Homo sapiens: one gene and its partners. The protein of the gene in region 2 interacts with the protein of the main gene of each other region in a pairwise test. Each region holds a gene or a part of one and is shown on either strand. Other genes may lie near its edges. The genes, in order: USP32, TRIM74, MGRN1 and LRSAM1.

Region 1 (8,292 bases), on a different chromosome or scaffold from region 2:
GGCTCACTGCAGCTTTGACCTCCTAGTCTCAAGTGATCCTCCTGCCTCAGCCTCCAGAGTAGTTGAGACTATAGGCACACACCATCATGGCTGCTTAGTTAAAAAAAAGAAGTCTTTTTTTTTTTTTTTTAGAAGAGACGAGGTCTCACTATGTTGCCCAGGCTAGCCTTGAACTCCTGAGCTAAGGTGATCCTCCTGCTTCAGCCTCCCAAAGTGTTGGGATTACAGGTGTGAGCCACTGCACCCGGCCAGGAGACACAAATTTCTAAAGAAAGTAGTACTCAGATGCACTGACTATCCTGTTGCCTCTTAATATACGGATAAGGAATGTCATTTCATACATTAGCCACCATGAGTAATACTAAATCCTGGCTCTGATCACTTATATTAGCATATATAATACATTGAAAATGCATTCACAGCAACAGATTTTGAGGACAGGATAAAAAAGTAAAAAAATAAAATTTGTAAAATTATTAAATTTTAAAAAATTAAAGAAAAGAAGAGAAGAAAATACATTCAATGATGTTGCAAAGACAGAAAATGACTATTTCACAAATGACACTAGCAAGACTGGCAGTGAGTTGCCTAACATTTAACTAACCATTTTTCGGTGGACTGCAATGATGTAACCTGTAAAGGGGCTGTCAGGAAGAGATGGCATGTGACCATTAACCATTCCATTTGTGAAGTTCTTCTCAGTTCCACATGGCACAACAGTGTTTGGCATTCCATTGGGGATGAATATTGGTCGGGGTAGGTCCCCATTGGTAGTTAGGGTGAACATTTCATTTGTAGATGGCGAAGAGGAGAAATCTACAAATTCAAAGATAAGTACAGTATCATAAGCTTGTGGTATTTTCATCTTTGCTCTTTTCTCAAGTATCCTGAGGACCAGAGACAGTGTAGTCTCTTAACACAGGGCAGGGAGAAATCACAGTATAAATAATTCTAGATTTATTGGAAGATTTTAATTTTCCAGTTTTACTTCCCTAACTCACACTTTTGGCCAAATGAAAAGGAAAGAGTAACTGCTGGAAACTATTAAGCAGAATTTTTGCAGAAACCTGTATCAGCACCATGTTGTAGCACACAAACAGTTCTACCACTTGTTTTCTTTTCCTTCTCTTTGCCTTTGAAGACACTGTCCAATACAGTAACCTCTACCCAGATGTTGCATTTAAAATTTAAATTAGGCTGGATGAGGCAGCTCACATTTGTAATCCTAGCACTTTGGGAGGCTGAGGTAGCAGATCCCTTGAACCCAGGAGCTAGTGACCAGCCTAGGCAACATGGTGAAAACCCATCTCTACAAAAGATACACCATAGCTGGGCATGGTGGTACACGTTTGTAGTCCCAGCTACTTGGGAAGCTGAGGTGGGAGGATTGCTTCAGCCCATAAGGCAGAGTCTGCAGTGAGCCAAGATGATGCCACTGCACTCCAGGCTGGGTGACAGAGTGAGACCATTTCTCAAAATAAATAAATTAAATTAAATAAAAATTAAAAATGCATTATTCTCACTCACACTAACCACATCTCAAGCGCTTAACAGTCCACGTGACTGGTGGATACTGTATTGGATGGCAAAGATCACAGAAGTTTCCACCACTGCAGAATTCTATTGGACAGTGATGCTCTAAACTAAAACTAAAATTAGAACATCCACCAACTCACCGTCAGGACTATCTACCTACTACACATCAATGAGGGGAGCCTCATAAAGCCCTTTATAGTTGGGGAATTAGCCTAATTAACCTAATTGTAAGTAATATAAAGAATAGACAAAGCATACTAGTGGCTAAAAGGACTCAGTGAGTGACCACATTAAATTACATATAATATTGGATTTCTTTCTAGCTATATCTATTGTTTATATTTTCTGGTAGTATGTTCCTCTCATACTAGCTGTTGCCATGTTATATTAGATACAAGTTCAAAGAGATCTGAATTCCAAGGGTATATTAGCTAACGACTACCTATCTAACTGAAGTCACTTGGGTTCTCTAAATTTTAGGTTTCTCGTCGAAAAAATATGGAATAATCAGTAAGGTTTCCCTTGGGTTCCAAAATTCTTCTGCTATAATATCCTCAGCATGAACAAATATAAAAAAGATGACAACTCTTAGACAAATATTTAAAGGAGCAATCATGAGAAGGAGTTCTAGTTCTATCTTACCTGTCTGTGTTGGACTAGAAGCTGAAATTGGAGACACAGGGACAGGAATTTCAAATGCACACAAAAATCCACTCACTGAGAGTCGTACTTTTTGGTTGTCCTGAGGAAAGTTCTACAGAAACAGAAGCAAGATGAGAAGGGGGAGATGTTTCAGATAAAATGGAAAAGTTCTCTCTCTAACATATTTCAAAAGAATGTCTTAGGCGCTTTCATCCGTAAAACCAACGAGATGATTGAATAATTTTTCAACTACATAAAGGATGAATGCTTGATAAAAATAACGGAAAACTAACCTCAATTTTCGAACTATTATCTCTTTTCACAGGAAGAAGTGTGTTATATACGACTGACTTCAGTTTTGTCCGTTTCAGGGATCTAAATTCCAACCCTCAGAGACTCCATTTTTGCATTTCATATTAAGAAACTGTCAGTGAGGTGAGAGTGTGTTCAGAAATCCCAAAGATGAATATAAATAATACCAGTTGCAGGAGCTTAATTTAGAGTAGGCAATATATTTATTAGATTATTTGTTTCCCCAGCTGGTATGTAGAAAGACATGATTGGTGTCAATTTGTCTTTACTCTTAATTTCTTAGTGTGTTAAAAGACCAAGTATATATATTCATAAATACTAAAAACACACATTCATAAATACATAAAATACTTTAACCTAGGAAGAATTCTAGTAACAGCGGTAATACAGAAGAGTTGTCAAGGGTAATAGCAGCAGTCTTTGGTAACAGCAGCAGTCTTTGGTGGAAACCTATACTATAGTGACACAGCTAGAACACTCCATATAGGCAGCCTTACGTATTTCCCTTCTTCAAAAATACCACCATCAGTATTATCCCTTTATTCTGGTAGAAAACTCTTAAGTTTCTGGGTTGGAAAACTTGGCATTTTTTGTTGTTGTTGTTCAGTTTTCGTTATGTTTTAGTATCTCTCTTGGTCACATAACCTAACAATTGATCATAATAATTGAGAAAAATGTCATCTTTGGAGGATAGAATCAAAAGTTTCTTAGAGTAGTTAATATTACCTTTATGTTGGAACCATGTACTTCTGCTAGAAGGATTTGTTCTGAATTAAGTCCACAGAGATCACTCAGCTGTTTTTTTAAACCTGTGTACTTTTCATCCATATTCAGTCTTAGTCCATACCGTACAGGGGTAGTACCATCTAACTTAATCACTAGTAAAGAGAAAAGATCTTTTATTGGTAAAATGCAGGTTTCATTGAAAGTCTTAAATGCTGTGTACAGATATATCTGACCTGTAAATATAATAGCAAATATTTCAGCCTAGAATTTTTATTTTATGTGTAAACACTAAAACAGATGGTACTTAGGGATAATATTAAGTGAAATCAGTATTTTTTTGGTGTTCATCTGACATAAAAGTATCAGTGGCTTTGCAGGGTTTTAAAGAGAGTTGCTGGCATATTTGAAACCAAAAAAACATGCCCCAGTCTACATCTTTCAAACCTCAAGTCATGCCTAAAATTAGGTTGCTCAATTATAATATGCTGACTACCGGTCTTTATTTGTAAACAAATAACTATGCTTACAAATTCAGGCTATTTAAATAAAGTAAATTTAATGGAGTCAAGTAATTTTTCAGAACTTTCTGACCTACCTGTTATTTCTAAGTGCATATAACTGTCCATTGGTAGTGGCAAAGACAAAAAATTGAAAGGGTCAAATCGGACACTTATATGCCCACATGTCTTGCATTTTACTTGAGATCTTAGCTGCCCATGGAACAAATCCACAACAATTGATCTATTTCTTCTTAGATGGTTGTCCCAGGCCTAGCAATAAAAAAGATGAGAATTTTCTCTCAAAATCCAAAAGAGAAGCATTTCTATATAAATTCAAAGAAGCTAGTTAAATATATTGGATTTAAATGTAAAGAATATAATCCTTACTCTTCATTTAACATAAAATATTAAATTGAGATGGAAAATCCTATTTTTCATTTGTTCTTATCAAGGTAACAATGGTAAATATTAAAGTTATTTGTCCATTAACAAGTATAAAGCATGCCTATAGGTCACTGTATCCATTACTTTAGCAATTACGGGGACTCTTTAAATTCCACTGGATAATTATTCCTACATCCAGTCCCATAAAGTTTACAATATGAAATGGCAACAGTTTTCTATTTTCATTAAACGTATTTTTGTTTTGGCATTATTGCATAAGAATTAAGCACAGAAATAGAAATTCATTCATTTTTGCAGTAAAGTTCTGATCTCAGAATAGTTGAGTTTGCATTTAAGTTGTGCTACATGTATTTGTGGCCAGAACATTTTGTCTATTGCTTACATTAGAAACTCAAAACTGACAAACCTCTGCAGCTACTTCCCAGTCTGGTCGCCCATCACTGTCCTTCAGTTCCACATATGGCTTTTCATGGACTCGATTAAGATCTTCATGAAGACCATCCAAGAGAAAAGCCAGAAGTTCTTGGGAGTCCTGTTGCTGAAACCCATTAAACCTGGGAGCATATTTTGCTATGGTCCACTATAAATATAAGAGAAGTCACAGTCATTATTTCCTACCCATAAAATTTGGAATGAACATGTCCTATAATCCAATCAGAGCCATTGTAAGAAAATAAATAGTATAGTACTTAGTCTGCCTCTATTTCAACAAATATATTTTGGATAATCATGAAATCTTTTGAATCTTAATGTCAAATGACCCCCCCCAAAAAAAGAGAAGTATTTTGGCCAATACTGTGCAATACTGTGTCCTCAGTTCAGTATTATGTAAGCAAACTGTTCTTCAGGCACACAGATGTTATTTAAGACAGAAACATTAAAACAGCGTTTGCTCACATTGAAAGACATCCTGTTCTATAACGTTTTACATTTTTATATGCATATAAAATATGTATATTTTATAGGTACATAGTATATACATAACATATGCATAAAATAATGTGTATATAATAATACATAACATGTATAAAATAATATGTGTATACATTATTTTATATAATATAATGTTGTCTTCAACAATTACATTTTCTGGTCTTGTTGCATCCTAAATTTTATTAACTGCATTATATTATAGAATTATTTTGAGGATATAAATTAATTAGAATAGTGCCTGGCAAGAGGTAAGTAGTCAAATGTGTAGCTGTTATAGTTAATAATTTGTAATATAAAAAGCTTTTGCTTTGTATTTAAATAAAAATAATGAATAATCCTAACTTCACTAAAATCTACTACATCTGATATTAATATAAAACTTATATTCATTAGTTTCATTCATTCATCCTTCTACTTTTTTTTTTTCTTTTTGGAGACAGAGTCTTACTCTGTTGCCCAGGCTGGAGTACAGTGGTGCGATCTTGGCTCATTGCAAACACCACCTCCCAGGTTCAAGCGTTTCTCGTGCCTCAGCCTCCCAAGTAGCTGGGATTACAAGCATGCACCACTATGCCCGGCTAATTTTTTTTAGTAGAGACAGGGTTTCGCCATCTTGTCCAGGCTGGTCTTGAACTCCTGGCCTCAAGTGATCCACCCACCTCGGCCTCCCAAAGTGCTGAGATTACAGGCGTGAGCCCCTGCGCCCAGCCTACTTCTTTGTATTCTACAGATAGAACTATCTTAGTTACGTTGAAAATGGATTGGATTGGATGTAATTAATAAGACTCTGAGGTCCACCTTGCAGTTAGAATACTGCTAATAGTGAAGTATTACCAAAAAAGGTTTACTCTTCATATAAGATGTTTGACAAATTAGTAAAATGAATGACATCCCGAATTTAGAGTGTACCTTTGGTCTTTATCCTACCCACTACATATACAGTAGTAATTTTGCATATATTTAAACAAGCAAAAGAATTTGACCTTTTGTTTATACCAAGTGAAGGATCCAAAAACATTTATTAAGTTAAAAGGCTAAACACAAAAAACAAGCAGAGAAAAATGATTAAACAACTATTAGGAATTAAATACTTTTATATTATTTTAACCTGCTTACCCGAAGCTTTAATGGGGCAACATTCTTCTGAGTTCCACTCCAAAGTTCCTGCACTAAATCACCATAGCATTTAGCCATATGCCCCTTCATACCAATGGGATTTGTCCTAGAAGTTTGAGAGGAAAATTTGTTGCCAAAGATTCTCATAAATCACAATCATGTGGGCGCAAAAATGCCTAGCATCTCACATCAAAATATCTTTTCTTTTTGAAACAAGAGATGTATTCCTTGGCCTATTTCATATTAAATAGGGCAAATAAGATAAAATCTTTCTCCCACAGGGTGAAAAAAGAGGAAATTTAGGTGATATTGGGTTTATATCAAAGTCACAGGTTAAGAGGCCAGTGACTCCAGAAAGATTACCTGTTGAGTTCATAAAGATGTCTCCCTGAGATAAAATACTGTGTCAGTGGCTGTGTGTTACTAACACACTGGATGCTTGAGTTCATGAAGCATGTGTTTCCCAGATTGCTTAGACCTGTGGCTCCCTTTTCTGTGGGAACTGGAACAAACAATATGAGAACCAAAGCTTAGCTGTAGTAATATGCCATGGCACAAACAGTTACTTATATTCAATGAAAAGGTTTTTTATAACTCTCATAATCAGCTAAATGGTGCTAATAATTCTCTAGCAGGTCTCTGAAATGCTAGAGAAGGCTTTTCATGGAGTGTCTGGCAACAGTGATGATCCATGCTCATTTGTAACCCAGAAGCAGCAATTATTCTTTTTAATTGCTATGATTTTTCAAAATAATTCAAACAATTCTTCTTCTAGTATGTCTTTTAAAACATATAAATTATTTAATTGCAGAGTTAGAAAGAAATTTAGAAAATAATTTGATGGTGGGTTTGCCAACATCAAATGCTGCTTCAGGAAAAAAGAAAAAGAAGAAGGCCCTAATTACTTTTGAACTAGAAAACCAAAAGTTGTTAGCACTTTAACAGTTGAGAGAAGAAAAAAAAAGAATACATTTAAAATAATCTCTTTAAAAAATAATACTGGAGACTTACCCTTGTGTCTATCTATTTTACTACTATTTGCTATAAAAGACATCTCCTCAGGCCAACTCATATCTTTGTTGCGAACTGGAAGGACAGATAGGAATGTGTTAATTTCTTATCTATCTAATTTATACCCATTCGATTGCTTTTTTTTTTTAAAGACATCTTATTCCTAAATCAGAAGTTTTAAAATCTAGTTAATTTTAGTACATACATTGCTTAACGACGAGGTTATATTCTGAGAAATGCATCATTAGGTGATTTTGTCTTTGTGTGAACATCACAGAGTGTACCTACACAAACCTAGGCTATGTATGGTATAGGCTGTCGCTCCTTGGCTACAAACCTGTACAGTATGTTACTGCATTGAATACTGTAGGCAAGTGTAACACAATGGTAAGTATTTGTGTATCTAAACATGTTAGAACATAGAAAAGGCACAACTAAAAATACAGTATTATAATCTTATGGGACCACTGCTGTATACAGGTCTTTTGTTGACAAACATCTTTTTGCAGCACATGCCTGTAATTGGCTCTAAAACCATTCCTACTCTTCATATTGAGGACTTTAAAGTCACTTGGTTTGAATAATCTTATCCCTCAATTACCTACTTGAAGTAAAATTATACTCAACCATCTACAGAAGTAATTAAAGTTCAGAAACAATGGAATTTCTTATACTTAAAACATTAGAAATTACAATTCTTTCTTAAATTGTAACAACTGTCAGAGTAATTTATTCCTTTTTTTTTTTTTGAGACAGTCTGGCTTTGTCCCCCCAGGTTGGAGTGCAGTGATGTGATCTTGAGTCACTGCAACCTCCGCCTCCTGGGCTTGACTGATTCTCGTGCCTCAGCTTCCTGAGTAGCTGGGACTACAGGCACGTGCCACCACACCCAGCTAATTTTTGTATTTTTAGCAGAGACAGATTTCACCATGTTGTCCAGGCTGGTCTGGAACTCCTGACCTCAAGTGATCCACCCATCTCAGCCTCCCAAAGTGCTGGGATTACAGGCGTGAGCCACTGCGCCCGGCCTATTCATTTTAATACAAAGGCAGCTAACAATGTTGCCACAAAACTTGATGGGAAAAGATACACTTAAAAAGTTTTTAATGGC
Region 2 (8,292 bases):
AGGGCAACCTGGTGAGGACACGAGAGCCACCTGCCACCAGCAGGGTTCAGGGCTCCCAGCTGTGGGTTACTTCCACCTTCTTTCACTTTCCCTCTTCCATTGTATTCTAGAGAATTTAGGCCCAGACAAGACACTGATTGATTGATTGATTGATCGATTGACAGAGGCTCGCTCTGAGCCCAGGCTGGAGTTCAGTGATGGATCTCAGCTCACTGCAGCCGCCACCTCCTGGGCTCAAGAGATCCTCCTGCCTCGGCCTCCCAAGTAGCTGGGATTACAGACGTGCACCACCAGGCCCAGCTAATTTATTTTTTAGTTTTTAATTTGCTGGTAAGATGGTTTGTAGCTTTGTTGCCTAGGCTGGTCTTGAACTCCTGGCTTCAAGCGATCCTCCAGTCTTGACCTCCCAAAGTGCTGGGATTATAGGCGTAGGCTACAGCCAACTTTCAATACTGCCCCATTGGGGGTTACGTTTCCAACACATGAAATTAGGAGGATACATTCAAACCACAGCAGTATATTATGACCATAATATTCATTAACTGTGTAACAGGCTGGGCGCGGTGGCTCACACCTGTAATCCCAGCACTTTGGGAGACCAGAGTGGGTAGATCACTCGAGGTCAGGAGTTTGAGACCAGCCTGGCCCACATGATGAAACCGCCTCTCTACTAAAAATACAAAAAATTAGCCGGTGTGGTGGCAGGCGCCTGTAACCTCAGCTACTTGGGAGGCTGAGGCAGGAGAATCACTTGAATCCGGGAGGTGGAGGTGGCAGTGAGCCTGATTGCACCACTGCACTCCAGCCTGGGCAACAAGAGCAAAACTCTGTCTCAATAAACAAACAAACAAACAAAACCTGTATAACAGAGTGTCATTGAATTTCTAAACGTTGAAAGACTTCACATTAAAAAAAAACTCACAATTTAATATTATTGAGTGAAAGAAACCAGACACAAAAGGGTACATTCTATATGATGCTGTTTATGTGACATTCAAAAACAGGCCACATGACAACATGGTAATAAGGACAGTGGCTGTCCTTGTTAGGAGTTATGACTGGAAGGAGGCAGGAGGGAGCTTTCTGGAAACACTGTACATCTTGCTCTTGAGAGTGCACGTATATACATCAAGTGTTTATCAAGCTGTGTGGTTAAGATTTGCACACTTGTATATGTTATACCTCGATTTAAAAAATCTAAATAAGTAAATAAAGATACCTTCAAATCTTTAAAAAAAAAAAAAAAAAGAGGCCAGGTTCGGCGGCTCACACCTGTAATCCCAGCACTTTGGGAGGCTGAGGTAGGAGGATTGCTTGAGGCCAGGAGTTCAAAACCAGCCCAGGCAACAAAGTGAGACCCCTGTCTCTACTAAAGTAAATAAAACAATAAAATAAAAAAAAAAATTCGAGAGATCGAACCATCATCTGCCAGTTTGTATTAGAAAAAAAGAGAGAGAGAAGGAAGACTGCGTGCAATAAGGCTCATGCCTGTAATCCCAGCACTTTGGGAGGCCAAGGTGGGAGGATTGCTTGAGCCCAGAAGTTGAAGACCAGCCTGGGCAACAAAGCAAGACCCGGTATCTACAAAAAAAATTTTAAAAATTAGCTTGGCATGGTGGCACGTGCCTGTAGTCCCAGCTACTCAGGCAGCTAAGGTAGGAGGATGGCTTGAGCCTAGGAGTTGGAGGCTGCAGTGAGCTGTGACCACGCCACTGCACTCCAGCCTGGGCAACAGAGCAAGACACTGTCTTCCCCTGCCCCCCAGCCCCCCACCCCCCCCAAAAAAGGATATAAGAGCAAGAGATTGAGATTCAGAAAGAACTGTTTCCCAGCACCTGTCTGCTCCTGTCGGGGTCGTGAGGTGTGGACAGTGTGCCTAGTCCCTCTGTTTCTGCCCCTCCTCCACAGTGGCCAAGGCCAGCACTTGAATGTTATCAGAGCAGGCCCAACAAAGGCTGCCTCCCCAGTCCTGTGATGTAACCCAGTTTCCACCTGATTCTGGTGACCTTGGGGACACAGGGGTGTTGCTGGGGAAGGGGAGGAGAGAAGGGGCAGAGACCAGGCAGTGGTGCAGGCGTCCAGCTGCACTTCCCACTTCTGACTCTGTGCCTGCTGTTCCCTGCTGGGAAGAAGAAAAGCCAGTGATGCTGGCTTGAGGCCATAGTGGGAGGCCCAGTGGATCCTGAGAAGCTAGGTATTCCAATGTCGGGCTCTCGCTGGGGGCTTCTGGTGCTTCTTCTGTCTCACTGACAAGCTTTCATAGGGGAGCAGGTGGGAGATCAGGGTAGAGGCCTTGTAGGTTCCAGGCTCTCTAGAATTACCTGGGAGTGTCACCTATAAGTGTAGAGTTCTGGGTCTCACTGGAGACCCCCTGAAGCAGATCCTTTGAAGGTGGGCCTCTAGAATCTCTATTACACCTATGCTTTCAACAGTTTCCTGAAAGTTTGGGAACTGATCTAGAAGGTGGGGAGCTTGCCTAGGTTTTGCTGTTCAGTTCTAGGTCCGGATGCATGCTGGGGCTGGACCTTGCATTATTAGTGTCACTGCAAATGACCCTGCAGATGGCCCCTTTCATGCTTGTCTCCAAATTTGAGTAAAAAATGTAGACACACACACACACACACACACACACACACACACACGTATCTTCAAGGGACCAGTTTTTTCACTGCAGTCTTTTGTTTTACAGCTGTGGAAACTGAGGCCCAAGGTCATGTGGGTTAGGACTGGGATCCAGGACTCAAAGTGTTTCTTATAAAATTCTGGTGCTCCTTAGGGTTGAGGGTGGTGGGTGAGTGCTGGACAGGGGGAGGGGAGTGGACAGGACTGAGGTCGGATGCCTGTGTTTCAGCCCGGGCAGTGAGTGTGGATGGCTTGGCAGGTGAGCCTGCTGGAGCTGGAGGACTGGCTTCAGTGTCCCATCTGCCTGGAGGTCTTCAAGGAGTCCCTAATGCTACAGTGCGGCCACTCCTACTGCAAGGGCTGCCTGGTTTCCCTGTCCTACCACCTGGACACCAAGGTGCGCTGCCCCATGTGCTGGCAGGTGGTGGACGGCAGCAGCTCCTTGCCCAACGTCTCCCTGGCCTGGGTGATCGAAGCCCTGAGGCTCCCTGGGGACCCGGAGCCCAAGGTCTGCGTGCACCACCGGAACCCGCTCAGCCTTTTCTGCGAGAAGGACCAGGAGCTCATCTGTGGCCTCTGCGGTCTGCTGGGCTCCCACCAACACCACCCGGTCACGCCCGTCTCCACCGTCTGCAGCCGCATGAAGGTGGGGAGTGAGGGTGCAGGCGGGGCGGCGGGGCCCGCGGGGACTGGATCCTGTGCTCTCTGGCGCTATCAACTGGCACCAAAACGGATCCAGCTATCCTCGATTTCCCTGCAGCCCTGCCCTGGCGCATTCATTCCTTAGTGTTTGAGCGGCAGCTAAACCCAGGTGCTGGGGATTGAAGCTACACGCACAGGATGGGAGCTCCCTGGTGTCACGTGCTCACCCCTTCCTGTTTTTTGTTTGCAGTTCTGGTTTGTTTCTTTTTCTTTTTTTCTTTCTCTCTCTCCCGCCCCCTTCCCTTCCTCTCTCTCTCTCTCCCCCTCCCTCGCCCGCCCCCCCTTTCTTTTTCTTCTTTCTTTTTGGAGACAGCGTCTCACTCTGTTGCCCAGGCTGGAGTGCAGTGGTGTGATCATGGCTCACTGCAGCCTCCAACTCCTAGGCTCAAGCAATCCACCCACCTCAGCCTCCCGAGCAGCTGGGACTACAGGTGCACACCACCATGCCCAGCTCATTTTTTATATTTTGTAGAAATGGGGTCTGGTTATGTTGCCCAGGCTGGTGTTGAATTCCTTGGCCTCCAACGATCTTCCTGCCTGGGCCTCCCAAAGTGCTGGAATTATAGGCATGCACCACTGCCCTACGCCCCTTGTTTGTGTCTGGACACTCCCCTGTTTGCACTCTCTGGTGCATGAGAGTGGGGACTTCATTTTGTCCCCTGGTGTATTTCAGTGCCTGGAGCCATGCCTGGCACATTGTAAATGTCCAAAATGCTGAATCAGTGAATTCCTGCCTTTATAGGCCATCACCAAACCTAGCAGATCATTCTTTAAGATGAGTAATAATAATACCTGACTGGGTGTTATATATATAAAACACCTGTTATAAAACACGTGACTGGGTGGCTTATGCCTATAATAACAGCACTTTGGGAGGCCGAGGTGGGTGGATCACTTGAGTCCAGGAGTTTGAGACCAGCCTGGGCAACATAGTGAGACCCTGCCTCTACAAAAGTTTCAAAATTAGCCTGGTTGGCCAGGCGCAGTGGCCACTCCTGTAATCCCAGCATAAAGCTGGAGGGAGCATGGGTGGGGGCGAGATAGGGCCAGCGAGGTAAGCTGCGGCTGGGGCATGGAGAGGCCAGTGTGACCCGGGAATGGATTTGGAGTTTATTCACAGGATGAGGGAGAAAGGCGGGGGCTGGAGTGTTTTAAGCCAGTGATGACATGCTCAGATCTCTCTGGCAGAGGGGAGCTTTGAGGGTGAGGCAAAAGGACAGTGAGAGATGAAGGTGCCAGGACCTAAGTTGGTGGGAACTGGGACAAAGGCCTGGGGCAGACCAAAGACAAATTTCAAACAGAAAAAAACCCTGACAACTGTGTGTGGCAAGGAGGGTGAGGGATGGGGAGGTTGACTCCAGCTCTGTAATTCCCCCTTGCACAGAGGAAGTGATCGCAGGGGAGGATCCGGCGTGGGCAGGTGGAGCGGGAGGTGCCTGGGGATGTGCAGTCGGGTTGAGGGGTGTGCAGACCAGGACAGCGGTGGGGCTCAGGGCAAGAGGTGTGGAGGGTCCTTCCTCTTGGTGGTCACTGAAGTCCCCTTTGGTGGAGAAGACCAACCCAGGAGAGTCTACATAGTGATAAGGGAAGACACTGATGATGACCCCAAGGGGTACCAGGCTTAAAATCTGGATTGAGAGAGAGAGAGCCCTGAAAAAGGAATAGAAAGAATCCTCAGAGCAGGAACACCGGCTGAGTGTGGCCTCCCGGAAATCAGAGAGACAGACTGAAGGAGGAGATCACGTGTGTGAAATGTCTCTGAGGACTGAAAAGTGTTAAATGTAGCAGTAAGAACTGATTATCTTGGCAAGAGCAGGTTTAGGGGAGTATGGAAGGTGGAAGCCAACTGCAGGTGAGGAAGCCGAGTTTATGTTTTATTAGTTGATGGGAAGGAGGGAGGGAACAGGCTGGGAGATTGTCTGTCCTTTGTAGTTAGGATCCAGCAGCTCAGCTTGGGTCCCTGTTTTAGATTTGGGCTTAATTTTTTTTTTTTTGGTAGAGACAGGGTCTCACTATTTTGTCCAGGCTGGACTCAAACTCCTGGCCTCAAGTGATCCTCCCGTCTCGGCCTCCCAAAGTGCTGGGATTCCAGGCATGAGCCACTGTTCCCGGCCAGATTTGGGTTTTGATGATCCCGAGGCTCTTCTCTGTTGCAACACAGAATACAACTAAATTGCACTCCTTTATTGCCCTCTTTAAGGTGTTCCCGTTGCCTCCTGTTTATTGAGATCTTGAGATGCTCGATTGATGGGTGCATTGATTTGCATAACTTAGTTCTTCTCACGGGGAAGGAATGAGTCCCGTCTGTCTGCCTGGGGAGGGTGACATTGGAATGCTGTTCTTAGGCCTCTGTGAGATGTTCTGATGCCTCATTCTCCAGAGCAAGGACTCTGTCCGTTTATGCCAGCAAGTGCTTGATTCTTTACCCAACTCCCTTCCTGAAAGCCCCTTGCAGCTCTCTGGTGCTTGGGCACGATCCAAGCCAAAAATTCTGTACATTGCATGGGTATAAACCGACGGGGGCTCTGGTCAAGTCATGGAGTAGATGGTGGTCCAGGAGTCCTGGTTGGCACCCCCAAGGCTAGGTCAGATTTGGGGCCCGGGCAGTCCAGGAGAAGTGCATTTATGTCAGCTTGGGGAGGTCGCAAATCCGTGCTGTGTCCAAGCCCACCAGGAATGGATTCAGGTGTTTATAGGTGTGGGGATTCACCAGGTTAAACCCAGGCCCGTGTGAGCACCACTGGCCCTAGAATTAGCCTCACCTGGCGCCGGCCTTTTTGTGATGGCTCCTGATTAAATACCCACTAATTCTGGATCTGCTGGTGACCACAGAGTTCACCTGATGGGTCCCCTACAGGCAGCATTCAATCCAGGAAGTGCCAGCATCACATGGTGACTTCTGGTAGCTGTAACATTTAGTGACTGTCTCCATGTCATGCACAGGGGTGACATCGAGACCCTCTTATGCCTGGGAAGTTCCTGCTGTCAATGCAGAATATTCTCTTTTTTTTTTTTTTTTTTTGAGACGGAGTCTCGCTCTGTCGCCCAGGCTGGAGTGCAGTGGGCGATCTCGGCTCACTGCAAGCTCCGCCTCCCAGGTTCACGCCATTCTCCTGCCTCAGCCTCCCGAGTAGCTGGGACTACAGGCGCCCGCTACCACGCCCGGCTAATTTTTTGTATTTTTAGTAGAGACAGGGTTTCACTGTGTTAGCCAGGATGGTTTCGATCTCCTGACCTCGTGATCCGCCCGCCTCAGCCTCCCAGAGTGTTGGGATTACAGGCGTGAGCCACCGCGCCCGGCCCAGAATATTCTTTGAAGAAAAAAAAAACATTAGAGATGGGATTTCACTGTGTTGCCCAGTCTGGTCTCAAATTCCTAGCCTCAAGTGATCCTCCCATCTTGGCCTCCTAAAGTGCTGGGATTACAGGCATGAGCCACTGTGCCCAGCCTAGAATATTCTTTTTTTTTTTTCTTGAGATGGAGTCTTGCTCTGTTGCCCAGGCTGGAGTGCTGTGGCGCAATCTCGGCTCACTGCAACCTCCTCCTCCCAAGTTCATGCCATTCTCCTGACTCAGCCTCCGGAGTAGCTGGGACTACAGGTGCCCGCCACCATGCCCGGCTAATTTTTTTTGTATTTTTAGTAGAGACAGGGTTTCACTGTGTTAGCCAGGATGGTCTCGATCTCCTGACCTCGTGATCAGCCAGCCTCGGCCTCCCAAAGTGCTGGGATTACAGGCGTGAGCCACCGCGCCCGGCCCTTAGAATATTCTTGAATTATCTTATTTTTTATTTTTATTTTTTGAGACAGAGTCTCACTGTGACACCCAGGCTGGAGTGCAATGGCATGATCTCAGCTCACTGCAACATCAATCTCCCAGGTTCAAGCGATTCTCGTGCCTCAGCCTCCCAAGTAGCTGGGACTACAGGTGTGTGCCACCACACCTGGCTAATTTTTGTATTTTCAATAGAAATGGGGTTTCACCATGTTGGCCAGGCTAGTCTCAAACTCCTGACCTCAAGTGAAGTCCCACCTCAGTCTCCCAAAGTGCTGGAATTACAGGCGTGAGCTACTGCGCCCAGACTATTCTTGAACAATTTAACCTGTTTTGGACTCAAGGGTACCTGGGTGGCTCTGGTTCCCGCCCTGGTTTCCCTGGGAGTGCTTGTGGCCATTGGGATACTCCCAAGAAGGTGATCCAAGGAGCTGAGAAGGGGAGGGATCAGCTGCTCATGGGGCCATGGCCTGTTGCCTCCAGGAGGAGCTCGCAGCCCTCTTCTCTGAGCTGAAGCAGGAGCAGAAGAAGGTGGATGAGCTCATCGCCAAACTGGTGAAAAACCGGACCCGAATCGTCGTGAGTGCCCCTTCCCTCTGCCCCTGCCTGGGACCGGCCACCTTCACTTTCCTGTAGAGCTCAGTTCTCATTGGTCCTTTACAGAAAACCATGCCTTCCATATAAAGCCAGAACTCAAAGCATTCCGGGGCGGGGTGGGGAAAGCGCAAATCCTCTCAGGGGAATTCAACCCAGTTGTCGTTAGGACTGGCTCCAAGTTGGCTTTTGCCCTCTGTGTCCTTGAGACTGAGATAACCCAGGACTTGAGTCTCGGGGGTAAACAGCTGAAAGCATGGGCGTGACTCCTCCGCCCCTGTGCCACCTGTGTCTGCTTGACCTTGCCAGCCTGTCATGGTGCCCTCCCAGTACCTGGGTGCGCAGGCGTGGAGAGGCTGGCAGCCCTGGGCCCTGGCTGATCTCCTGAACTGAGAGGCACATGGGGCTGGGACGCATAGTGCCCCGGCCCTGGAGGTGGCTGTGAAACAGAAACAGGAGCCGAGCAAGATCCAGAAGCACTTGGCCTCCCTCATTTACCCTCCTCACCCTTGCGCGGCAGGCGGTATCAGCCCTGCCTGGTGGAGGCGGAGCTCAGGGTTCTGCAGGGAGTTCTGGCTCCCTCACAGCAAAGCCCGCTCG
Region 3 (8,292 bases), on a different chromosome or scaffold from region 2:
CGGCTGATCTGCTTCAGCTCCGGAACCGCCGCCGTCGACATCTTGGCACTGACCCCGTCCCCGCCGCTGCCACTTAAGAGCATGCGCGAGCCCGCCCCCGCCGTGCCTCGCCAATCCGCGGGCGGCCGCGCCCCCGGGTCCGGTTCCCCCGCCAATCGCCGGCGCGCCCCGGGACCGAGCCCCTCGCAGCGCCGCGGTGCGTCGTCGAGAGGTGCTGCGGGCGGTGTGCAAAGGAGGGCGGTGCGCGTCAGCCGTCACCCAATAGTCGCACACCCTGGGCGGCGGCCCCGCCTCCGACGGGAGAGCCTAGACGACTGGTCGGTGCCGTGGTGGCTCAAGGTTGACATTGTGGGCGACGAACATCTTCCTTGGCGCCCCAAAGCGGACAGCCGAAATTCCCTGCGGTTTCTCCACCCTCGATGGCGCCGATCCCCTTGCGCCCACCCGTTTCTCCCCAGGAGGCCGACCCGGCCCGCATGGCCCCGTCCATCCGCAATGGCACCCTTGGCACGACCACACGAGCCAGAGATGCCCCGGAGCCTTGCTCCGCCAGCGCCACCGGACCCAAGCCCGGAGGGAGATGGCCTTCGCCTGCCATGCACGACAGCTGTCCCGACCTAGCCACCCTGCTGGCAGGCTCGATCCAGGACAGCACGGGGAGCAGGGCTTGGCAGGGCTTGAGTGCCCCAGTCCCCGAGTCCACGCTGGGTCAGGGCGGACGACCGGGAGCTCTGGGGCTCTGTGGACCCAGCTTGCTGGGCAGAAAGTGACTTAAATTCCGGGGCTGGACCTTTCCAGCATCCTCCAAGCCGGGCACCCTGTGCCAGGTACTGTGGGGGGAAGAGGGGTTTCCCCAATTTACGATGAGGAACTTGGAGCTCAGAGAGGGACATAACTTGCCTAAGTACAACTGGCAGTTGATGACAGAGGCAGAATCCCGATTCCACAAGGGCCTGAGGTACTTACCACTTACCTTGTGTTTGTACTGGAGATGTCTCTGGGGCTCAGAAGCATCCGAAACAGCCCAAGGCAGAGCGAGGTGCCCTGAACTCCATGATGGCAAGGCTCACCTCACCAGCAGCAGGGCCCAGGGCCACTTTCCTCCCCACCAGGGGAATGGATTTGCTGAGCACATGAACCCCCCTGCCTGCACTCACAGCATGGGTGCCCAGGGCTGGGGCACAGCCTCGGGAGAGCCGTGCAGTGAGGCCGAGCTCGCTGGCACAGAGAAGGCTGCCTTCAGTGGAGGCAGGCAGGAGAAGAGAGAGGGAGAGGGTGGGCATTGGAAACTCACCTGTTAGGTCCGTGGTGGCCTCAGATGTGGAGAATAAGGACCCAGAGAGGGCACCTCTCTCTCCTCCTGTGGCCACCAGTGGGTCAGGGGTCACATGGGACAGCTGCAAGCAGCAGGGGAAGTCCAGATTCCAGAGTGAGCGACCATGTGAGAAGGCGAGAGGGCAGCGAGGGGAAGGGTCCTCTCACCCAAAGAGGGCCCCACCCCTAGGCAGCCAAGCCCAGCCAGCGCCCAGGGCCCGTGGGACGCAGGGGCAGAGGAGGAGAGGCTCCCCTTGCTGCAGCCCCTCCCCGAGACCAGACATCAATACAAGCGCTGGCTCTTCTGGGAGGTACAGAGGGGGAGCCCATCTGGCCCATGCAAGCACCCGTCTGACACCCTGGGCACCCCTCTACCCACACTGGGATGGGGCCAGACCCAGGCAGGTCAGAGCAGCTGCAGGGCCCATGGGTGGCAGCCTTCTCGGGGCAGGGACTGATGGGCTAGAACACGGGCTTTCCCTCCACCCTCACAGTCTTCAAAGAAGGGCCATGGTGGCAGCTTGACCTGCACGCAAAGGAGCTGGGGCCCTGAGTGGTAGGCAGTGGTGTGGTGGGTGCCCTGGGGCACTGGCCACTCCCTGGGCAGGGGAGCGGGGGCTGTGCAGAGGCCTGGGGCCGGGCTCCAGCCTGCGAGCCCACAACCATGGGCAGCTAGACCTGCTCCCACCGTCCGGCCTCCACACGCCAGCCGCAGGGTGCTAGCACTGCTTCTCCGCTTGGAAGCCTGTTTTTAAAACTGACTCCCCCTTATAAAAACACTCCAGCAGCCCCTACAAGCTCTTCAGTATCTATCCAGCACCCTTCACTCCAGCCAGGGGCTCCGTCCCCAGGGGACACATCAGGCTCACTCCTGCCACCTGGAACACTCTTCCAGGGCCAGCTCCTCCTCAGCCCTCAGGGCTGTTTAAGTCTCCTCAGAGAGGCCCTCCCTGCCACCCGGTTAAATGAGACCTTGTACGGGTTCATCTCACCACCATGCTGACTTTCTTCCTAATAGTAACCAAACCTGGCAGGATTCTGATTAGCTGCTGGGCATCTCACTGCCTGGAAGGCAGGCGCCCGGGGCCAGGGCCGGGGCCTCAGCTCTTCTGCCTCCACTGACGCACAGCAGGTGCTCAGCAAATGCCTTGAGATGATCAGGACTAGAGATGGGGACCGGAGCGACTACTCACAAACCTGGAGGCCCTGGGCTCCCCAACCACCTGTTCACGAGAGAGCCCAATCTGGAGGGTGTGGCTTCCCTCCAACCAGACAACTAGCCCTGACAGGGATGGCTGGGAGCTGCCCGTTCTCGTTAGCCCTCACCTTGCTCACTGCCCTGACCCCAGAGGGAAGCCAGGCAGAGGCCGTGGAGCTGCCACGGTGCGGGAGCCACCGCCAACCACCCAGCGGCAAAACTCCGGGTCAGGAAACAGCCACAATCCTGAGGGCTGCACCCGGAGGAAGGAGCAGACAGGATATTGCTGCATGATTTTATTACTATAAATATACAGTAAAAACGAACCAACGATGAGCCCATCTGAGCACATCAGACGGCAGCACATGGGAGTCCCAGCGGGCCACTCTGCGGCCCGAACTTCACGCAAAGCTCTGGCACCAGGACTGATGGCCAGAGGCTGGGGCCTTGGTGGGGGCGGGGGGCGGGCGGTGCAGGGGGCTGTGTGTGTTGTTGGGGAGAGGTGCATGGGGGGAGAGAGGTGCTTGGGGTGGGGTAGAGGTGCGTGGGAGATGCTCGGTCCGAGTGCACACACATGCATGGGAACATGTGCAGGAGTATGTGCGTGTGTGTATGCGTGACAGCATGTGTGAGCGTGAGTGTGCATGTGTGAACATGTGCGTGAGCATGTGCAAGTGGGCGTGCATTTGTGTGTGTGTACGTGTGAGCGCATCTGCGTGCCTGTGCACGAGCGGGAGGGGTGGCTGGCCTGGGTGTGCAGGGAGCTGGGTGTGAGGACCATGCTGTCCACTGCTGGGTCTCGCCCAGGAGGCGGACCTCATGCTCGGAGCCACCGTGAGCCTCAGGGAGGGTACTGAGCTGCCCCACAGCCGACCTGTCCCCAGGCCCAGCTGCAGGGCAGCCCTCCAGAGCCAGGTGAGCAGCAGACACCTGCCTGGCCCAGGGCTCCGCAGGGGTGGATCCAGCCCTGGGTCACCAGGCCCAGGCACTCCCTTTGCCATCTGCGGCCCAGGAGGTTTACCTTTAAAAAAACAAACAAACAAACAAAAAAAACAGGACGAGGTCGCCCAGAGGCCAAGCCTCCCGGCCGGGACCCCATTCCCCAGGTGTGCTGCTGGCTTCCTCCTCCCTGGGCCAGTCCTGCCACAGAAGCCTGAGACAGAACAAACCAAATCAGAGAGAACTGCAAGGGGGCCGGGCGCGGAGGCTCACGCCTGTAATCTCAGCACTCTGGGAGGCCGAGGCAGGTGGATGACCTTAGGAGTTTGAGACCAGCCCGGCCAACATGGTGAAATCCCTTCTCTACTAAAAATACAAAAAAATTAGCCGAGCATGCTGGTAGGCACCTGTAATCCCCAGCTACTCAGGAGCCTAAGGCAGGACGATCACTTGAACCCGGGAGGCGGAGGTTGCAGTGACCCGAGATTGAGCCACTGCACTCCAGCCTGGGCAGCAAGAGTGAAACTCCATCTCAAAAAAAAAAAAAAAGAGAAGAGAACTGCAAGGGGACATTCCAATGGCAAAAGAGAATGAGGAGGCCACCAGGTCCTCCCTGGCAGGGGCCTGCCAAACAGAAGCCCCTGCACCTGGAGGGGCCTTGTGATGTCACCAAAGCCAGCACCAGGAGGAGGTGTGGAGCTTGGTGACAAGGCCACTGAATGCTGGCTGCTGGAAGCAGCTGTGCCTCCGCCCCTCGGCCAGGCCCAGCACCGGGCTGAGACACTCTAGCTGCCCAGGGCGGCACCCATGCACCCCAAGGCCCCGAGCACTGAGGGCCCCAGCGCAGACGCACCAGGGAGGGCACTGAGGCCGCGCAAACACGGCAGAGGACAAAAAGCAGCGACAGCCAGGCCGCCACAGTGACACGCAGGGTGGGTGGACAGGCACTGTTTCCTTCATTGACCGTGCCTGGAGCCCCCCACTGCCCCTGAACATCTGTGAAGATGGTGCTTCGACCACCAATCAGTTCTCTTCTGCAGGCCTCCTGAGTTCTCCGGGCAGGGACCGCACTGTTGCAGGAGCAGGCAGAGCCAGCGGAGGCCACACGTGGGCAGCCCCAGCCCCAGCCGCTCAGCCCACAGGACCCTGGGGAACGGGGGCTCTGAACTAGGGATGGAAAGCTGCTGTCCTTCATCTTGTACCAGTTACAAATATATCAACTGTAGAAAAGGGAGACTCAGAAGGGACAGTTCACTGTGCTCTTTGATCAAGAGTCACCACGGCCCCTCGGAGCCTGGTGGCCACAGGGGGCATGCAGACAGGAGGCCGGCTCACAACGGGGTCCGGAGCAGCCCCTCGGCAAAGTCTGGGGAGCCGAGGGCTCCATGCTGCCAGCTCGGCCAGGCTCTCAGAGTGGGGTCAGCTCGGCGGCGCTGGGATCGGGGCTGGGGCCACCAAGTGGAGGCCAGGTGGGGCTGGTGGTGGCGAGGCCGTGGGCCGTCTCCATGGAGGTGGGCCGTCCTGCAGGTGGGAGCAGAGGGAGGAGGGTCACACTCGGATGCCTGGTGCCACGCCACCCGCTCCTACCGATCTGGAGCCCCAGAGGGGCTGGGCCATCCAGCACCCCCACTCCCGCCGCCTGTGGCCACAACAGCATTCACTCAGATGTGAGCACACCAAGGGCCCGGGGACTCCCTAACTGTGCCAAATACGCTGTGTCCCTCTTGGGACAGACGATCCCAGATCCCCGGACACCCACAGCAGATCTGCAGCCCCGAGTCAGAGCGCGACACGGCACCGCGGTGGATGCCCTCTGGGCCTCCTGCCCTTGCCCTGGTTCCGGTTTCCTGGGATGTGGCCAGCCACTGTCCTGCCAAGGTTCTTACGGCTGGGTTAGGGTGGAACTCGGTCAACCCAGGGTGCAGGGGTGGGGAGCGGCCCTGGGTGAGAACAAGCCCGTGCTCAGAGTAGCCCCCGGATGGCTACTGCAAGGCAAAGAGAGGAGCCTCCCACAGAGCCCCAATGCCCAGACTGTGGCCTGCACGACGCCGCCGGGCGCTGTCCCCAGATGGGTCTGGCGTCCCTGGGGCTTGGGCAATGGTGCTGGTGCAGAGCCTGGGACGGGGCCAGCATGGCCTCAGGGCTGCCTGACACCCAGCCACCAGCCCTGACACATGGCTCCCAGCAGACACGGCCCAGGCCCCACTCTCCGGTGAAGGGCGTCTATTTTCTTCGGGGGCCGCGGCGAGAGCAGGTTTCCGAGGCTGTGAGCCCTGTTCTAGATCACACCTGCACTCCCCAGCTCCGGAAGCTTGACCTGAATCGTGACATTCGCACGGCACCTTCCACCGATGCGCAGGCCGGGGCCGTCTGAAAGGTGCTGACTGTTTCAATCTAGGGGTATAATGGCTCAGGACAGGGGTCAACAGAGGGACTCGCTGGGCTCAAGAAGACAGAGGTTCATGGGAATGCAGAGCGCAGTCAAAAGAAGCGAAGTTCTCCCTGACCCGGCTCAAGTCCACCCAAGGGGAAAGGGCCTCTTAGAGCCTGCACCCCCGGCCAGGCACCTCCCAGCAGGCTGCATGGGCCTCGGCAGACCAGAGCTGCACGCAGCTTGTGTGCCAAGACCCTCTGGGAAGGCAGAGGGTCCCCAATCCGTCTGCCTACATTTTGGTGGCACTCCTGGAGCTGCCTTCTCTCTCTCCCCCGTGTGTGTGTGTGTGTGTGTGTGTGTGTGTATTTTTTTTTTCTTGAGACAGGGTCTCAGGCTGGAGTGGGTGGGTGGGTGTGTGTGTATTTTTTTTTATTGAGACAGCGTCTCAGGCTGGAGTGGGCCTTGACCTCCCCAGCTCCGGCAATCCTCCCACCTCAGCACCCCTGAGTAGCTGGGACCACAGGCACAAGCTACCACGCCCAAGCCAATTTTTTATTTTTCATAGAGAGGGGGTCTATGTTTTCTACACTGATCTTGAATTCCTGGGCTCAAGTGATCTATCCCCTCGGTCTCCCAAAGTACCGGGCTTATAGGTGCGAACCACTGCCTGGACAGAGCCGCCTTCTGTAAAACACTCACCTGGGCCACCCTGGTAGAGGGCGCCTCTTGGGGGGGATGGGGGATGCCAACCTCACAGGGCCTCCTATCTTTTAGTGCTGGTGTTCCAGAAGGTTCCAGTACTGGGAGGGACAGGTGAGTCGGCAGCAGTGGGCTCATGGCACAAAGGCAGCCCACGAGGGACTGTGTGCCAGGCCCATGGTGATGCCAGGCCCACGGTGGCCATGCTGACAAGGGAAGGAGGGAGCGGGGGAGCAGGTGGCTGTGTGAGCGGACGCCCTCAGGACAGGACGCAAGATACTCTCCCCTGGGCACCAGAGGGCCCCTCGAGGACGGACTCCCTCCAAGAGACAGGGACTGAGCTTGGGAAGACGTGATCCAGGGGCTCTCCCAATCGGGGCGCATTCTTTCCCCATGAATTGTTAAAGCCACGACCGGAACACGGGAGTGGACCTGCTGAGCGTCCTAACGTGTCTGCTGCAGGACCGATGCGAACTCATGGTGGGACCATCCGGAACAAGGCCAGGCCCAGGCCTCTCCCCTTGGGACGCTCACCCCATGTCTCCCTGGGGTTCCCTCCACGGTGCTGCCCTCATCCCTCAAGCTCCTGCCTCCCGCAGTGGACAGTGGCTCTGGCGCACCTGGGCTGTGTCTGTCTCCCTGCCTGGGCTGGGACTGTTCCAGGGCCCCTCAAGGCTGGAAGAAGAGCCTGACCGGCCGCCTAGTCCAGATGGAGAGACCTCTGGCCCCGAAAGTCAGGACCCCCCAGGAGGCCACTTTCTGGGGGAAGGTGCAGCAGCCACTGGAGAGCTCTGGATTCGGAATCCAGGGCCCCTGGGAAGATGCGGATGCGGACGAAGACCCAAAAACCAGAAGGAACCCCCGCCAGAGAGCAGGGGAGGGCTCCTCTCTCCAAGGACGCGCGTCAGAGCCCCCGAAGCGCGTCTGGGAGGTCACGTACCGGCTTACTCGTCTATACCAACAGAGCAGGAGTCGGGCCCCAGGGCTGCGCGGAGAGGGGGAGAGACAGACGGAAGCTCGGTTAGCAAGCGCGCAGCAGCCAGCACAGCCACAGCAAGGGCACCAGCTTGGGGACACGGTCGAGGCCGTCTAGAAACAAACACTCTGCTGCAACCACAGAGAACCACAAGGAGAACCACAGCTGGGAGGCAGAGCGCAGCCAGAATTCAACGCGGAGGAGCGCACTGGCCCTGCCCCTCCCTCCCATACCTCCCGCTGCCGCAGCCTAGGGAAGGGCGCATGAAGGACCTAACGGGCGCAGTCCACCTCTGGTTTCAGGAGTGAAGGCCCTGGGTGGGGGGCTGAGGCTAGACAGGACCGAGCTCAGGGCCAAGTCCAAGACACCAGGGCCCCCAGTGTTCACCATCTCATGGGCCCTCCCATCTACAGGGACAGCAGGGTTCAGTGATGCCGCCCACCCCGCCAGGCAGCGGCTGCACCCCTATGAGAAACCAAAGGCTCTGGCGTGTGTTCATGCCTTACGCACAGACACGGATAGACAGTCAAGGGCTCTGTGATGTGAAAAAGTCAGTGGAACAGAGGGGCCACCACATGGATTTAAAAACACACAGAAACCTGTGCTGACAAGGCTGACAGCCACGGAGATGGCGCCAAACAGCCCCCAAAGGCACATGTGCTCTCCGTGGCTCAGAACTGAGGCCGTGCAGGCTGACCTGCTGGCATTCAGCAGCAGCCAACTCCAAGAGCGGGGCCCAGGGCCCAGGAGTTCACCTCAGGCTGCCCCGATGTAGACTCGGCCTCTCCTCTA
Region 4 (3,500 bases), on a different chromosome or scaffold from region 2:
ACTGGAAAGTACAAAGGAAAATAATTGCATTTCCAAGCGTTATCTCCTGCCATTTTTTATTTGTTTGTTTGAGACAGGGTCTCACTCTGTCGCCCAGGCTGGAGTGCAGTGGCGCAATCTCAGCTCACTGCAGCCTTGACTTCCTGGGCTCAAGCGATCCTCCCACCTCAGCTTCCCGAGTAGCTGGGACTACAGGCATGTGCCACCATGCCTGGCAAATTTTTTTATTTTTTGTAGAGATGGGGTTTCGCTATGTTGCCCAGGCTGGTCTCCAACTCCCGGGCTCAAACGATCTGTCTGCCTTGGCCTCCGAAAGTGCTGGTTTTACAGGCATGAGCCACCGCGCCTAGCCTCTCCTGCGGTTTTGATGCATATTTTCCAAACATTGTGATGCACCTTTATAGCTGTTCGTGTATGCGCCTTTTAAACGTGGCATGCTGCATACCCTTTTCGAGCAGCCTGTTTCCGCACATTCTTTTCAAGTCATTAAACTATTCCTTGACGTCCTTTCTCAAGGCTGTCCGTGGCCCCTATTGTTGAGTATGTGGATTACTTCTGGTTTTTAAACTTTTCTAGGCAATGCTCTCCGAATGCCTTTGTAGTCGAGTATTCGGGAACAGCCATGAGTATTCACTCCAGACAGGACTCACTATGTCCAGGGCAGGCCGTTTGATAAGCTTTTGGCAGGAGTGGCCCAGCTGTCCCTGTCCCCTGATGGGTTTGACACTGGCACATTTTCAGCGTGGCAGAGGCCCCCTTGAGAGTGTCTCCTCTAGACCCAGAGGGCACCCAAGCAATGAGGACAGAGGCCAGGCTCACCATCTGGGGTGGAAAAGACCGAGTCGTTCCTGTGTCCCCGTGAATGCACCAGATGCCCTCTGAGCTGCGTCCTAGGCCGGGTCCTGTGCAGGTTTAGAAGAGAGAGACCAGCTGCTTCTGGAGCCCTGAACAAGCCAAGTGGTGCCTGTGCCCATCAGAGGAAGCTGCCTGTTCCTCACGGTGCCCTACTGCCATCTCCTACGCATCAGGTTACTTTGCAGATGGTGCCTTGGCGCTGTGCCTTAGCAGCCAGGTACTATGGCTGGTGCCCCTGCCCTTGTAGGCCTTGGGGGTCACCACCAAAGGAGGAAGCACCGCCCCAGCAGAACACAGCCCATCCGGCTCCTGGGCGCTGGAAGAGAGGGGCTGCAGCCCGGGAGGGCCAACGACGGAAGGGAGCAGTGGGCGTGGCCAGGTCCAGGAGGGGCCCGCAAAGGGCAGTCAGGCCCAGCAGGGATTGAGAAACGCCTGTGTTGATCCCACTCCCCATGTCATGCCAGCCCTCACTGAACAGCTCCGTTGTTCTGAGCACGGGCTCTGGAGCAAGACAGGCCTGGGTCCAATTCCTGGCCCCACCCTGGGCAGGTTACTCATCACCCTGAACCTCAGCTCCCTCACCTGGGAGGTAGAATCTCCTTCCCGGAGTTGTGAGAATTAATGATGGCATCGTTAGGTGCACAGCATGGTCTGGCACATGGCACTGTGAACATGTCAGCTACGCCTGTTGTCACCGTGGCTGTTATCAGCATTGTTTGTTCACTGCTGTATTCCCAGCACCTAGAACAGTACTCAACGAAGAGTTATCGAATGGCAGAATAAAAGAATCACATTCAGGCTGGGTGCAGTGGCTCACGCCTGTAATCCCAGCACTTTGGGAGGCCGAGGTGGGCAGATCACTTGAGGTCAGGAGTTTGAGACCAGCCTGGCCAACGTGGTGAAAACCCCATCTGTACTAAAAATATAAAAATTAGCCGGGCATGGTGGCACACACCTGTAGTCCCAGCTACTCGGGCACTCCAGCCTGGGTGACAGAGCAAGAGTCCATCTCAAAAATAAAATAAAAGTACCAAGTGCTGTCCACCCGCTCAGAGGAGCATGGTTCATAACCATCATTTTGGTTTTGTTTTGTTTTGTTTTTTTGAGACGGAGTTTCGCTCTTGTTGCCCAGGCTGGAGTGCAGTGGCGCGATCTCAGCTCACTGCAACCTCTGCCTCCCGGGCTCAAGAGATTCTCCTGCCTCAGCCTCTCGAGTAGCTGGGATTACAGGCATGTGCCGCCATGCCTGGCTAGTTTTGTATTTTTAGTAGAGGTGGGGGGTTTCTCCATGTTGGTCAGGCTGGTCTTGAACTCCCGACCTCAGGTGATCTGCCCACCTTGGCCCCCCAAAGTGCTGGGATTACAGGCATGAGCCACCGCGCCTGGCAACCATCATTGTTATTACAGGTTTTATTACCATTTTGTGACTAACATTGCCTGCTTCATTCCTGGCAGACGGAGTTAGAAGCCAAAAGTGAAACCAGGCAGGAAAATTACTGGCTGATTCAGTATCAACGGCTTTTGAACCAGAAGCCCTTGTCCTTGAAGCTGCAAGTAAGGACTGCTGGTGCCTGTCCCGGCCAGGGAGCCCTGGGGACCTCCTCCCAGAGGCGCCTGTGGTGCCTCCACCATGCTCTGCCTCTTGTTACTTTTCTGGTGACTCTAGCATGCCAGATCCTGTGCCAAGCCCCAGTGGAGACAGAAGCGAGAGTAAGGGAGTGTTCATTCTGGTGAGGGGGACGACAAGGCACTGGTCACTGCTGTGCAGGGCAGAGACCACTGAGCCCACAGTAGAGCAAAGCCTGTGCCGGGAGCCACTGTCTGTCCAGCACCTGCGGGGACAGAGAGGCAGTTGAAACAGCCCCCTCTTGGTGGATGTTCAAGTTGCTTACTATTTTCAGGTTTGCAGACAGAGCGGCAGTGAACCCCTGGGCCTATCTATCTATCTATCTCTGTGTGCCTACCTATGAGTTTTTGTAGGAAAAATCCCGAGTACATTCTATGTATTATGTTATAAATATTCAAACCCTTCATTTCCTGTTGTAAACAGTGGGTTCTTTTCTTCCTTCCTGCTCATGGTACACGTTTCTGTCTTGCAGGAAGAGGGGATGGAGCGCCAGCTGGTGGCCCTCCTGGAGGAGCTGTCGGCTGAGCACTACCTGCCCATCTTTGCGCACCACCGCCTCTCACTGGACCTGCTGAGCCAAATGAGCCCAGGGGACCTGGCCAAGGTGGGCAGCAGCCGTCTGCATGGAGGGGAGGGGCACGCAAGGCCGCTGTCCTGACCAGCCGGGGGTTGATCTGCTCCTTGTGTAGTCCTCGTTGAGGCCTGTCCTTACCTAATGGCCCAGGGCCACCTTGCTTCCAGATGGCCAGAACACCTGCCCATCTGCCCCAGCCGCCTGTGTGTGCCCTGCACACTGTCTCACTGGGAAATCCTGGGGAGGTGGGTCCTGCTGACCTGATCAGACTGGATCTTCAGACTGGAGGGACAAGACAGGCCCTTGGGGCTTATCTGATCCAGCCTCTGCCCTGCCTCATGGTGTCACAAACTGTCGTGGCCACAGCACTGCCTGAGCCCCTGTTCCTTTCTGGGCACAAGCTGAGCTCTTTACAGCACATTAATCCACTTATTCTTCAAAACA

The links.
Region 1: the proteins of TRIM74 (region 2) and USP32 interact in a two-hybrid assay, tested with the Homo sapiens proteins (one large-scale study listed by BioGRID).
Region 3: the proteins of TRIM74 (region 2) and MGRN1 interact in a two-hybrid assay, tested with the Homo sapiens proteins (one large-scale study listed by BioGRID and IntAct).
Region 4: the proteins of TRIM74 (region 2) and LRSAM1 interact in a two-hybrid assay, tested with the Homo sapiens proteins (one large-scale study listed by BioGRID and IntAct).

The regions. Positions count from the first base shown.
Region 1 is NC_000017.11:60,204,843-60,213,134, forward strand, and holds part of USP32 (ubiquitin carboxyl-terminal hydrolase 32), read right to left. Parts: intron 7,257-8,292; coding exon 7,182-7,256; intron 6,673-7,181; coding exon 6,534-6,672; intron 6,277-6,533; coding exon 6,171-6,276; intron 4,702-6,170; coding exon 4,528-4,701; intron 3,987-4,527; coding exon 3,812-3,986; intron 3,369-3,811; coding exon 3,217-3,368; intron 2,291-3,216; coding exon 2,179-2,290; intron 817-2,178; coding exon 605-816; intron 1-604. UniProt on the Homo sapiens protein: Deubiquitinase that can remove conjugated ubiquitin from target proteins, such as RAB7A and LAMTOR1.
Region 2 is NC_000007.14:72,960,735-72,969,026, reverse strand, and holds part of TRIM74 (tripartite motif-containing protein 74), read left to right. Parts: intron 1-2,073; exon of another isoform or gene 2,074-2,194; intron 2,195-2,851; 5' UTR 2,852-2,869; coding exon 2,870-3,268; intron 3,269-7,581; coding exon 7,582-7,677; intron 7,678-8,292.
Region 3 is NC_000016.10:4,685,476-4,693,767, reverse strand, and holds the end of MGRN1 (E3 ubiquitin-protein ligase MGRN1), read right to left. Parts: intron 7,510-8,292; coding exon of another isoform or gene 7,469-7,509; exon of another isoform or gene 4,973-7,468; coding exon 4,860-4,972; 3' UTR 2,796-4,859; downstream 1-2,795. Other genes in the region: NUDT16L1 (tudor-interacting repair regulator protein), read right to left, coding at 1-83. UniProt on the Homo sapiens protein: E3 ubiquitin-protein ligase. Mediates monoubiquitination at multiple sites of TSG101 in the presence of UBE2D1, but not of UBE2G1, nor UBE2H. Plays a role in the regulation of endosome-to-lysosome trafficking.
Region 4 is NC_000009.12:127,493,010-127,496,509, forward strand, and holds part of LRSAM1 (E3 ubiquitin-protein ligase LRSAM1), read left to right. Parts: intron 1-2,310; coding exon 2,311-2,409; intron 2,410-2,954; coding exon 2,955-3,086; intron 3,087-3,500.